Homo sapiens: one gene and its partners. The protein of the gene in region 1 interacts with the protein of each later gene in a pairwise test. Each region holds a gene or a part of one and is shown in the gene's direction. Other genes may lie near its edges. The genes, in order: KATNAL1, IQUB and CEP57L1.

Region 1 (3,658 bases):
GGCTTACGCCTCTAATCCCAGCACTTTGGGAGGCCGAGGCGGGTGGATCACGAGGTCAGGAGATCGAGACCATCCTGGCTAACACGGTGAAACCCCGCCTCTACTAAAAAATACAAAAAATTAGCCAGGTGTGGTGGCGGACACCTGTAGTTCCAGCTACTCGGGAGGCTGAGGCAGGAGAATGGCATGAACCCGGGAGGTGGAGCTTGCAGTGAGCCGAGATCGCGCCACTGCACTCCAACCTGGGCAACAGAGCGAGACTCTGTCTCAAAAAAGAAAAAAAAAGAAATTATTGTGTCTAACTCGATAATAATGACTTTGACAACCTAAGATTAGTTTAGCTTTGTGTTGGAGCCTTTCTGCATCAACCTAAAGTAATATTATTTAGTTTTTGTTGGCATTATTTAAACACATGCAAATGAGCAAAAATGATCAGCGTAAGCTGGGGAAGATACACGTTTAAAATTTTTTCAGTTTAGCGACATCATAAGTTTTAGACAGTTCCTGTCACTGCAGTTATTTTTTTTCTTATTTTTCTAACTGCACTTAAATTGACTTTAGTAGCCTTTCTTTAAAGCCACAGCATCTGTTTTTCTCACCTTTTCTGCTCGCATTTTTCCCATGTGCATCCAAGTTTAGTGGCATACAATAAGGTTGCAATAGTTCCTACTGCTACTATAGCAAAATATTTAAGAACTTGACATTTTTGTTGGCTTGGCCTTCCTAATAGCTTTTTTGTGATTATGAATTATCCTTTTCTTCCAGACCTTCATATTTATTTATAGTTGGTCAAAGAGAGCTGCACATGGGATCAAGAGAAGCCAGAGTTTATGCCTTCAGTTGCCTACAAATACTCCATGTAGGGAATTCCATGTCCACTATATGTGGATATTCATGTTTCAGAGGGAGTGATTCGTGTCTTTATTCCTCTATTTAGGCTGTAGACAAACTGGTCTGTGGTTTGAATTATCTTAACATTAGCCATATGTTCATTTCCAAGTGTACAATTCAGTATTTCAAAATTTGACTTCAGTTTCCTAAACTTCTTGGCTGTCTTTGAGGAGCAAGTGGAGAAAAGAAAATTCAGTACTATTCGAGCTTAACTTAGACTTTTAGGGTTCGTTAACTATACATTTCATGTTTTTGGTTGTTTGCATCCTGTCTTAACTTCTGCTGAACCCCCAGGATGTTTCTTAAGTGGAAAATTCTAAGAAGCCTCATAAAAACATATAAAATAATCTTTTGATTTTTTTTTCATAACTTTGTTACAATTGAAAGTGTTTAAAACATGTGCAAAAATTACTGTTGACTGATTTTGGTATATTTTTAGGGATGCCTCTTTAATGGCAATGAGACGGCGTATCAATGGCTTAAGTCCAGAAGAAATCCGTGCACTTTCTAAAGAGGAACTTCAGATGCCTGTTACCAAAGGAGACTTTGAATTGGCCCTAAAGAAAATTGCTAAGTCTGTCTCTGCTGCAGACTTGGAGAAGTATGAAAAATGGATGGTTGAATTTGGATCTGCTTGAATTTCTGTCAGCTCTTTAATTTCTGGTATTTTTGTTGATAAAATACGAAGAAATTCCTGCAATTTTTAAAAAACAAGTTTGGAATTTTTTTCAGTGGAGTGGTTTTCGCTTAAAGGAAAAAAAAATCTAAAACTGCGAAGAATACTAAATGTAGTTGAGAAATAATTGATGGCGAGAGTTTGCTAGTCTCCCTCCCCGGCTTTGTGCTGGTATTCCACGTATTCCTGCATTAATATTGCACACCCAAACCAGTCTATCAGGGAGGCTGAAGCAAGGGCGCAGTGTGATATTTTAGGAATACAGAAGATTTAGAAATACCCCTATTTCTCATTTGCAGTTTTTTTTTCCAATTCTGTGCTCTGTCAACATGAGGGACCTATCTATGTATGTTGACTTTTAACATCAAAATTGGATTTGTGTCAAACATTCATTGTTAAGAGAAGAATGACAGTATATTTTGGAGGAAATAATGAATTTACTAATTAAACCTTTAGAATTTATGACTTACTGTTAGAGTCTGTCATATGGTTAGAATTTTTACTTCCGCTACCCCTGCCATTTCTTCTGCTAGCTACTTCATAATATCTTGAGCTTTACTGAGGAATATTCTCACGCTCTGTGGTATTTGAATCATTTTGCCAGGTCATTTCTCTGTCTTTAGTATTTTTTGCTGGTGCTTCTTACATTTAATATGGAAAGGTGGGAAGAATATTACTGCATTAGATGTAATTCTTCATTCTAGACTTCCAAGTTTGTTTTCACTTTTTTGTGTGTGCGTGAAGGAGTCTGTGTCACCCAGGCTGTGTAGTGCAGTGGTTGATCTTGGCTCACTGCAACCTCTGCCTCCTAGATTCAAGCAATTCTCCTGTCTCAGCCTCCCAAGTAGCTGGGATTACAGGTGCGCACCACCATGCCTGGCTGTGTTTTCACTTTTCTTTCAACATGTTCAACCAGATATATAGCCATTATTTTTCTCAGCTCCAGCATTGTTTGATTTTTCTTGAGTTTGATTTTAGTATTTGAGATAAATACTTTTACATTCTAAACAAGTCCACTCTCTGTGGCTAACGCAAAACAAATGAAATCTTTATTGTTTTCCAAACAGCTAGTTTAACAAAACAGCATCATACATAGTGAATGATGTTCATTGGAAAATTCTAAAATTTGTCCTTGTCTAGGTTGAGAACTTTTACACACACTAAGATAAAGATAGAAATCTGACATGCTCACTCAATTCAGCAGGAATTACACATTAGAAAGAAGCCAGAAAAATAAATGGCATATATCCAATCACAAGTAAATGATCCTGGCGTTAGTTTTTATGATTACATGTGTCTCATTAGGCAATTTATGCTTTAATGGTCAAGCTTTTAAAAATTTGTATTTGATAACATCCTGAATTCTCAGTTTCGAATAGTGCCTACTGGTTTAAAACTAAAAATAATACAGCTTTTTGGACATTTAACCAAGATACTAAGAAGGTTTTTTTTAAAAAAAGAGATTTGATTATTTTTCCCTGCTAAAAACTGTAAATGCCTTATGTTCTTTTCAGATAACTTAAGTCTGACCTAAACTCCAGTATTCATCTGATGCTGTAAATTGCCCTTCTTTCTGAGACACAGATTATAAGATGCCAGATCATAAGACATCATGATTTTATTGTAATTGAATTCTTCCTAAAAATTGAGAGGTTTCCTTTTATTAACTTTTAAAATAAAGAAATAAGTAGTTTCATTACGATTATTTTGCAAACTATTGCCAGTCAGAAATGCACTTTTTTTTTCCCTGAAGTTTTAGGAGCCGTCACTAAAACATTAGTCTTGTGATTGTTAAAACTTGTTTGTAATGGGTTGGTGCAAAAGTAATTGTGGTTTTTCCATTACTTTCAATGGCAAAAACCGCAATTACTTTTGCACCAGCCTAACAATAGTTGATTAGTTAGACCTTTTCTGGGTTTTGTATTGATTATCTTGGTGTGCATTTAATTATTTTTCTGAATTCTTCATGGATAATGACATAGTAATTGTGATTCTTTTAATACCAGTTAAGCAGTATTTGGCAACTTAAACTTCCTGGGAGCCTAACTTTACTATGTTAAGTGAGTCAGGTGTGCTTTTTATTTCCCTTGT
Region 2 (3,658 bases), on another chromosome or scaffold:
CACTAAGTGAATTACTTATCTTTATTAAATCTCAACTTCCTGTGTTTGCTTCAGCAGCCCATATACTGAAATTGGAACCATATAGAGAAGATTAGCATGGCCCTTGGACAAGGATGACATGCAAACTTGTGAAGTGTTCCATATTAAAAAAAAAAAATCTCAGCTTCCTCATTTGTAAAATGGCAGTAAAAGGTTTTAAAAGGTCCCTACAATGGCCCTGAAATTAAGATGGTACTTACTAATGAATTTTAAAGATCATTCAATACCATATGTTTATTATGGTAACATTATAGTATTATTAAGATTATATTCAGGTAAAATTAGCATACTGAAATGAATTTATACTGCTTACTCTGGTTTAGAGATGGGGACGCAACTGTGAGACTGATAATGTAGTTTAGGCAAAATGAACAGAAGTTTAGTGAAAAATAAGGGGCTATGTGTCATTGAAACCTAGTGAATAATAATTCACTTAAAAATACTCTATAATTTAATTATTTGCTCAAGTAATATAATAATCTTAAACAAATTTAAACTACATTGTTTTTAAAACTTGCTTTGACATGCAGCTACAAGACATTCAGTACCTGACAGAGAACATCTGGGCGTCCCAGTCAGTCCTCAGTGCTTGCGACAATCTCAGTGATCTGGTCATGGTCAGATGGAATAAATCCCTGGAGTGGTCCCCCTGGAACTGCATTCTTCTTACCAAAGATGAAGCAGCTGCTCATCTCAAGCTAACAAGTATTGAAGAGGTAAGAAAGTTGAATTTTATTTGGGAAGTTAATTTAATCATTGGAATTATTAGCGATAACTGGACTGCCTTCTAATATATTCCATGCTTAAATACTTCCATCAGATTAAGAAACAGAACTTATGGATTAACAACAAAAAAATTTATGGATGGCATATATGGCACAGATTAAATAAAAGGTATATATAAGAGATTTGAACATATTACAAGTCCTAAACATCATACCAGTCTCTCCTAATAGTAAGTTTAAGCACATTCCACGGTAAATTCCATGAAGGCAGTGATTTTGTTTGGCTTATTTACATCTATTTCTCTAATACCTACAATACTGCCTGTCACAGAATGGAGTTTATAAGTATTTGTTGAATGAATAAATGTGCATTACCACCAGATAGGTATTATGGAACCCAGAATCTGTCCTTCTTTGATTAATTATCATGAGTCTGCTTAAAAACACCCAACTCTCAAATTTTGTTCATAATTTTGTGCTCTAAATAGCAATCATACTGATGGGGTGTAGTTCTGATGCTCCATTTTTCATTTGCTTCCAACTTGCTGGGAGTGGAGCAAGCACTGTAAACATTAAATGCCATTTACTGTAATTTTAGTAACTTACATGATGCAATCTGTAAAACATTTTGATGGGTAAGTTGAGGGACTCCTGAAGAGTTCGTAGAGAGCTCCATTTACACTAGGTCCAGGATCCCGAGAGTTAATACTGATTCTCTGCATTCTTTAATTCCACACAAGGTGTCAGCTAAAGGAAAGTAAAGAAATGACAAAATGCAGTAGTCGTTTAAAATAGTGTGATTCCCTGTTTGTTTTTTTTCAGTGGAACAAGGGGTGATGAATATAAAGATAAGAAACTAGCTAAAGTTTTAGTTTTTAAATATTTTTTTAGTTTTAAGAAGCCAGGCTAAGAAAAATTTCACTCTAGGGATTGAAAGAAAAGGTAGCAATAAGTTGAAGCTGTATTAAATGTTATATTTAGTAAACTAAGCTGCCTCATAAATATTTAATCACAGGAAGCATAGTCAATACTAGCAATATCATTTCATCTAGGACCCATGATGAGATTGAAGTTCATTCCCAAAGCTGATATTCCAGTGCTTCTTCAATTAATCCACACAACTCCCTTTGTGCATTTAATCAAATTACTGCAGTATCAAATTAAATGTTCTATTCACATGCATTTCTAATTTAGAATGCCAGTCTTATCGAATTTCTGTAAAGGGCACCAAGATTTGCAAGCAGACAAACTGGAAAAACATTTGCCTTTTTTATGGTTTTGGGCTGATACAATCTTTTAACTATTAACTTTCAGCCCAGTTAAAGAGTAGTTTATATCTTGCAGAAAGATGGAGCATTTTCAGAATTTTCTTAATGTTCAGAGATATTTGCTTTCTTAAGAAGTTAAAAAAATACTTGCAAGTTAATATGAAACAGGTATAGGAAACGTGGAAAAACACTTTCGTTAATGTGAACTTTAAGTGGAGCAGATTGATCTCTCCTTGTGTGCACACTGGCCAAAGTAGGAACAATCATGGACTTAAAATCAGTAATCCTGACCCAGTTAACTCAAATCTCTGTCACTGACAACTTTACATTAAAACCTTCCCTCTTTGCTTCATAAATTTTTAGAAAGATTAGCTAAATAAGTGGAATCAGTAAAGAGGATAAAAGCAGCTCTGGCTCTGAATTCTAGCTTTACCATTCATGAGCTGGGAGAAATTGGACAAATTTGTGAATGTCTCAATGACCCAGCTTTCTCGTCTATAAAAAAGAGATAATGGTATCTCATCATAGGGAAGCTTTGAGTAGGCCATTATTTAAAGCTTTCTGCATAGTTTTTTTTGGCATGAATAAACTTAGGTAGTAACTATGAAAGCACTTTAAAAATTTTTGATGCATTTTATTTTTAATTTTAAAGCAATATATTATTGGCTTAGAATCTGAACAGAATAAAAAATGTAATGTAGAAAGTAAAGGTCTCAGAGGTTGAGGGAACAGGGAGAGATTTGTTAAGGATACAAAAATTATAGCTAGATGGGAGGAGTGAGTTCTAGTACTGTTCTGTGGCACTGTAGGTTGTCTATAGTTAATTACAATATATGGTTTCAAATAGCTAGACGCAGCATATCGAATGTTCCCAGCACAAAGAAATGATAAATGTTTGAGATGAATATGCTAATTACTCTGATCATGATATATGTATCATCCCATCACTATGTACCCCGTAAATATGTACAATTATTATCAATTTAAAAAATTTAAAAAACGACTGAATGAATAAATAAAGGGAGGCAAATAGACAAATCTCCCATGTAGAATTCCAAATAATTTATGTAGATACTCTCCACTCTTAAGGAGATGGAGAATAACTCTCTACCCTTTAAATGTGGGCTGTACATAATAACTCCTTTCCAAAGACTATATTATGGATGGAAGGGGAGGACCTTTACAGTAGAGAAACTTGACAAACACTACCTCAGCCAGGTAATCAAGATTAACAGCAGCAGTGCTGTCATGCTGATGGTGTGTACCCTTGATATGATGTGAGGAGAAGGGCACTTCACCCCTGTGGTCTTCCTCCCCAAAACCCATCCCTTCAGTCTAATAATAATGAAGAAAACACAGGACAAACCCAGATTGAGACACATTCAGGAAAATGTGGGTGTGGGGTATATGGGACCTTTCTGTAATATTCTTAGAACTATTTGTACACCCAAAGAATTTGTGAACATAGTTTAAAACCATCACATGGCTATTTCAAGAGAATGGACCTTATTTCAATGGGAAAAAAGGTCTCTTGATGTCCACCCATCCCTATCTCCATGTTGCAATGATAACTACTATTTCTTAGGTATATAATAATCTATTGAAATCCTTCTGGAAGTTTTCTAT
Region 3 (3,658 bases), on another chromosome or scaffold:
CTGTTGCGCCCCACCTTTGCCAGGATTTGGTGGTATCAGTGTTTTGGACTTTAGCTGTTCTAATAGGTATGTAATGGTATCTCATTATTGTTTTAATTGGTGATTCCCCAATGACATATGTTGAGCATCTTTTCATACGCCTATTTGCTGCCTGTGTATCATGTTTGGTGAGGTGTCTTTTCAGATCTTTTGTCCATTTTTAAATTATTATTACTGTTGAGTGTTTTTGTTTTTTAGAGGCAGGGTCTCCCTAGGTCACCCAGGTTGGAGTGCAGTGTTGCTTTCATAGATCACTGTAACCTCAAACCCCTTGGCTCAAGCAGTCCTGCCTCAGCCTCCGAAGTAGCTAGAACTACAGGCATGCACCTCCACGCTCAGCTTACTATTGAGTTTTAAGAGTGCTTTGTATATTTTGGACACACAAGTCCTATATCAGACCTGCATTTTGTAAATATTTTCTCCAAGTCTGTGGCTTGTCTGTTCATTCTTTAATAGTGTCTTTTGCAAAGCAGAAATTTTTAATTTTAGTGAAGTCCAGCTTTCATGTATCATGCTTTTCGTGTTGTAGCTAAAAAGTCATTGCCATACCCAGGGTCATGTAGATTTTCTCCTGTCTTCCAGAACTTTTACAGCTTTGTGTTTTGCATATAGGTTTATGATCCATTTTTTAGTTTTTTTTTTGTAAAAGGTATAAGGTCTGTGCCTAGATTTATGTTTTTATTAAAAAGTTTCTGCTGGATCTGAAATTATTATTTTGATCAATAATATTAAAAGGTGAAAAACTTTTTTTTAAAGACCATTATACTGAATCTGTACAACTATATTGGTGCCATTCTTCAAAACTGTTCCTTGAGAGAGAGACCTGAAGTCAGCCTAAAGATGAGGCCAGGGAGAACTTTATCTGGAATGTATCAGGAAACCGGACTAACAGTTCCATTTTAGTTATCTGTTGTCAGCATGTGCAGTTGGCTGAGTGCTGTAAGTGAAAATTGTTAGGAAGACTTTCTACAATTAAGAATATTATTCTCCAATTGAATTACCTTGTTACTTGTCTACATTGCTGGTTTTTGTTTTTGTTTTTTTGCTACTTTTTTGCCTAGTCTTACAAGGTTGCAAAAATCAACCTGTGATTTTTCCACAATAGTTTGACCCTTCTCTACAATGAAACACTGAAGCCATGTAAACTTAAAATATCTCTTTCTATGATAACTGACTTCAACTTAAGTTTTTAAAGGAAATTATACTAATTATTTACTGTATAGTAGCATAAGCAGTTTTGCCTCTAAATGCTTCCTTAGTTTTTCTTTTGGCTTGTTGAAAAATGTCTTGTCAACCAAGTACTATATGTGTACTTTTATGTGTGGGGTATATGTGTATTGCCCAAATGAATCATAAAGGCTCTTAATTTGAATCTGTATATTTTATTTTTAAGTTTTCCTTAACAAGGTCGATTTGAATTCCTTAACAAGATTGATTTGAATGATATTCTTTTCAGCCCTTCAAAAACATATTTTCTGAAACACTGTCATACATACTATTCTCAGAATACCATGCCCCTTTTTTCTATGTTATTTTGGTTCCATCTTTCAGGAATAAATGAGTAAACCACTTAAATCAAGTTTACTCTTCAGTATTTTCTCCAGTTTTTCTGTTTTTGGTGTCTCCAAATTTACTATAGTATGCTTTGAATGACTAAATCTCTAGTATTTCTGACATATATTAATGGATAGATTTTTAAAAACCAATAATTGTTGAATCTATTTTCATTTTGCTCTTCTTGAAAGATTTGTGAGCGAGCTCTAGCAATATACGCAACATACAATATGAATTTTATAAACCAGTCTCACTACTGATTTTATTCTTATTTTTCTACTTATTTTCCTTATCCACATTTTACATGAATATATACATATATAGGGGTAAGATATTAAAATTATATGTCATTTTTAAAAGCATTACATATTTCAAACAAAAAATAAGAGTAACAAAATAAATACCCTTTTAAACTACCCCTTGGAATGAACAAATGTTAACATTTTACCTAGTTTGCTTTAGTTTTTGTTTTTTTTTTTTTCAATGAAATGAAATATCACATAGGTTGTGAAAGTGCTCTTGGCACAGTCATATATTGTCTTTGTCTTTTAAAAAAATGTTACATAGAAGATATCTTACTATCTGTAACTTACTTTCTGTTTTACTCAACAATATATTTTCAGAGCTTATCTGTGTTGCTAAATGTAGATCTTGTTTTCAAATTTTAGCTGGTGTATAGTGTTTCATTGTATGAATATGATACAACTTATTTATCCAGTCCCTATTAATGTATATTTATTTAAAAAAAAAATTTTTTTCTGTTGCAATCAGTGCAGCAGTGAACATCATTATACATATGTCCAGATATGTGCCATTTTCTCTAGGGTTCACTCATAAATTCGGAGAAGTGGAATTGCTGAGTTATAGGATATACACAGGATCACATTTTTCAAGTTATGTTTTGTTTTACCAGTTTACACTCCCACTGGCAGTTCATGGGAATTTTCATTTCCCCACATCCTTGACAAAACTTAATATTGATAGGCGTGTTTTTTTGTTTGTTTTTTGTTTGTTTGTTTTGTTTTGTGAGACAGAATCCCACTCTGTTGCCCAGACCAGAGTGCAGTGGCACAATCACAGCCCACTGCAAGCCTCAACCTCCCGGGCTCAAACGATCCTCCCACCTCTGCCCTACAAGTAGCTGGGAACACATGTGTGTGCCACCACACCCAGCTAATTAAAAAATTTTTTTTTTGTAGAGACAGGGTCTCACAGTATTGCCCAGGCTGATCTTGAACTCCTGGGCTCAAGAAGTCCTCCCACCTCAGCCTCCCAAAGTGCTAGGATTACAGACATGAGCCACTGCACTGGGTCCTGATAGGCTTCTTTTAAAATTTTTTTCAATCTAATGGGTGTAAAATAATTTCTGTATTGTTTAAATTTGCATTTTCCTGATCAATGAAGTAGAACGTTTTTGTCCTTTTAGCTATTCGTGTTTTCTTGTCTTTTAACTTCCATTGTACCTTTTGTTCCTTTGTTAATTGACCTTTGTGTTTTTCTTAATAATTTATAGGATAGAACTTGTTTCTGTATTTCAGATACTAATCTTTTATGTTATATATGTTTCTTTTTTAAAGATATCATCAATGATGTTTTTTGTTATACAGACATTTTAATTTTTATATAGTTTTATCATTTTTTCTTTTTTATTTGTAAATTGTCTTGTTTTAAGAAATCTCTTCTTACCCAAAGTCTGAAACGTACTCTATATTTTCTTCTAAAACAAAGGTTTGTTGTTCACGTATAGATGTTCAGTCTAGCTAGAATTTATTTTTGTGTTTGGCATGGAGTAGAGATATATGTTTATATTTTACCGTGTGGATAGCACTGTATAGTGAATATTGGCATAGTGAATATTGAATAGCCAATCCTTTCTCCATGTAAATGCCCTCTTTTTCATATACCAAATTCCCACATATGTAAAAGTTTATTTACTCTCTTTTCTTTTGTATCAGTCCCTTTTGTCTCACCTCAGGCCTATACCACTATTTTAATGACTGAAGTACCATAATCAGTCTTAATAACTAGAAAAACAGTACCATCTTTTTGTTCTTTTTCACAGTGC

The links.
Region 2: the proteins of KATNAL1 (region 1) and IQUB interact in binary tests that used the Homo sapiens proteins (3 or more experiments, as listed by UniProt).
Region 3: the proteins of KATNAL1 (region 1) and CEP57L1 interact in binary tests that used the Homo sapiens proteins (3 or more experiments, as listed by UniProt).

What each region holds. Positions count from the first base shown.
Region 1 is NC_000013.11:30,206,411-30,210,068, reverse strand, and holds part of KATNAL1 (katanin p60 ATPase-containing subunit A-like 1), read left to right. Parts: intron 1-1,330; coding exon 1,331-1,529; 3' UTR 1,530-3,658. UniProt on the Homo sapiens protein: Regulates microtubule dynamics in Sertoli cells, a process that is essential for spermiogenesis and male fertility. Severs microtubules in an ATP-dependent manner, promoting rapid reorganization of cellular microtubule arrays.
Region 2 is NC_000007.14:123,454,478-123,458,135, reverse strand, and holds part of IQUB (IQ motif and ubiquitin-like domain-containing protein), read left to right. Parts: intron 1-569; coding exon 570-755; intron 756-859; coding exon of another isoform or gene 860-943; exon of another isoform or gene 944-3,658. UniProt on the Homo sapiens protein: Adapter protein that anchors the radial spoke 1 (RS1) complex to the A microtubule of outer doublet microtubules in axonemes. The triple radial spokes (RS1, RS2 and RS3) are required to modulate beating of the sperm flagellum.
Region 3 is NC_000006.12:109,101,980-109,105,637, forward strand, and holds part of CEP57L1 (centrosomal protein CEP57L1), read left to right. Parts: intron 1-3,658. UniProt on the Homo sapiens protein: Centrosomal protein which may be required for microtubule attachment to centrosomes.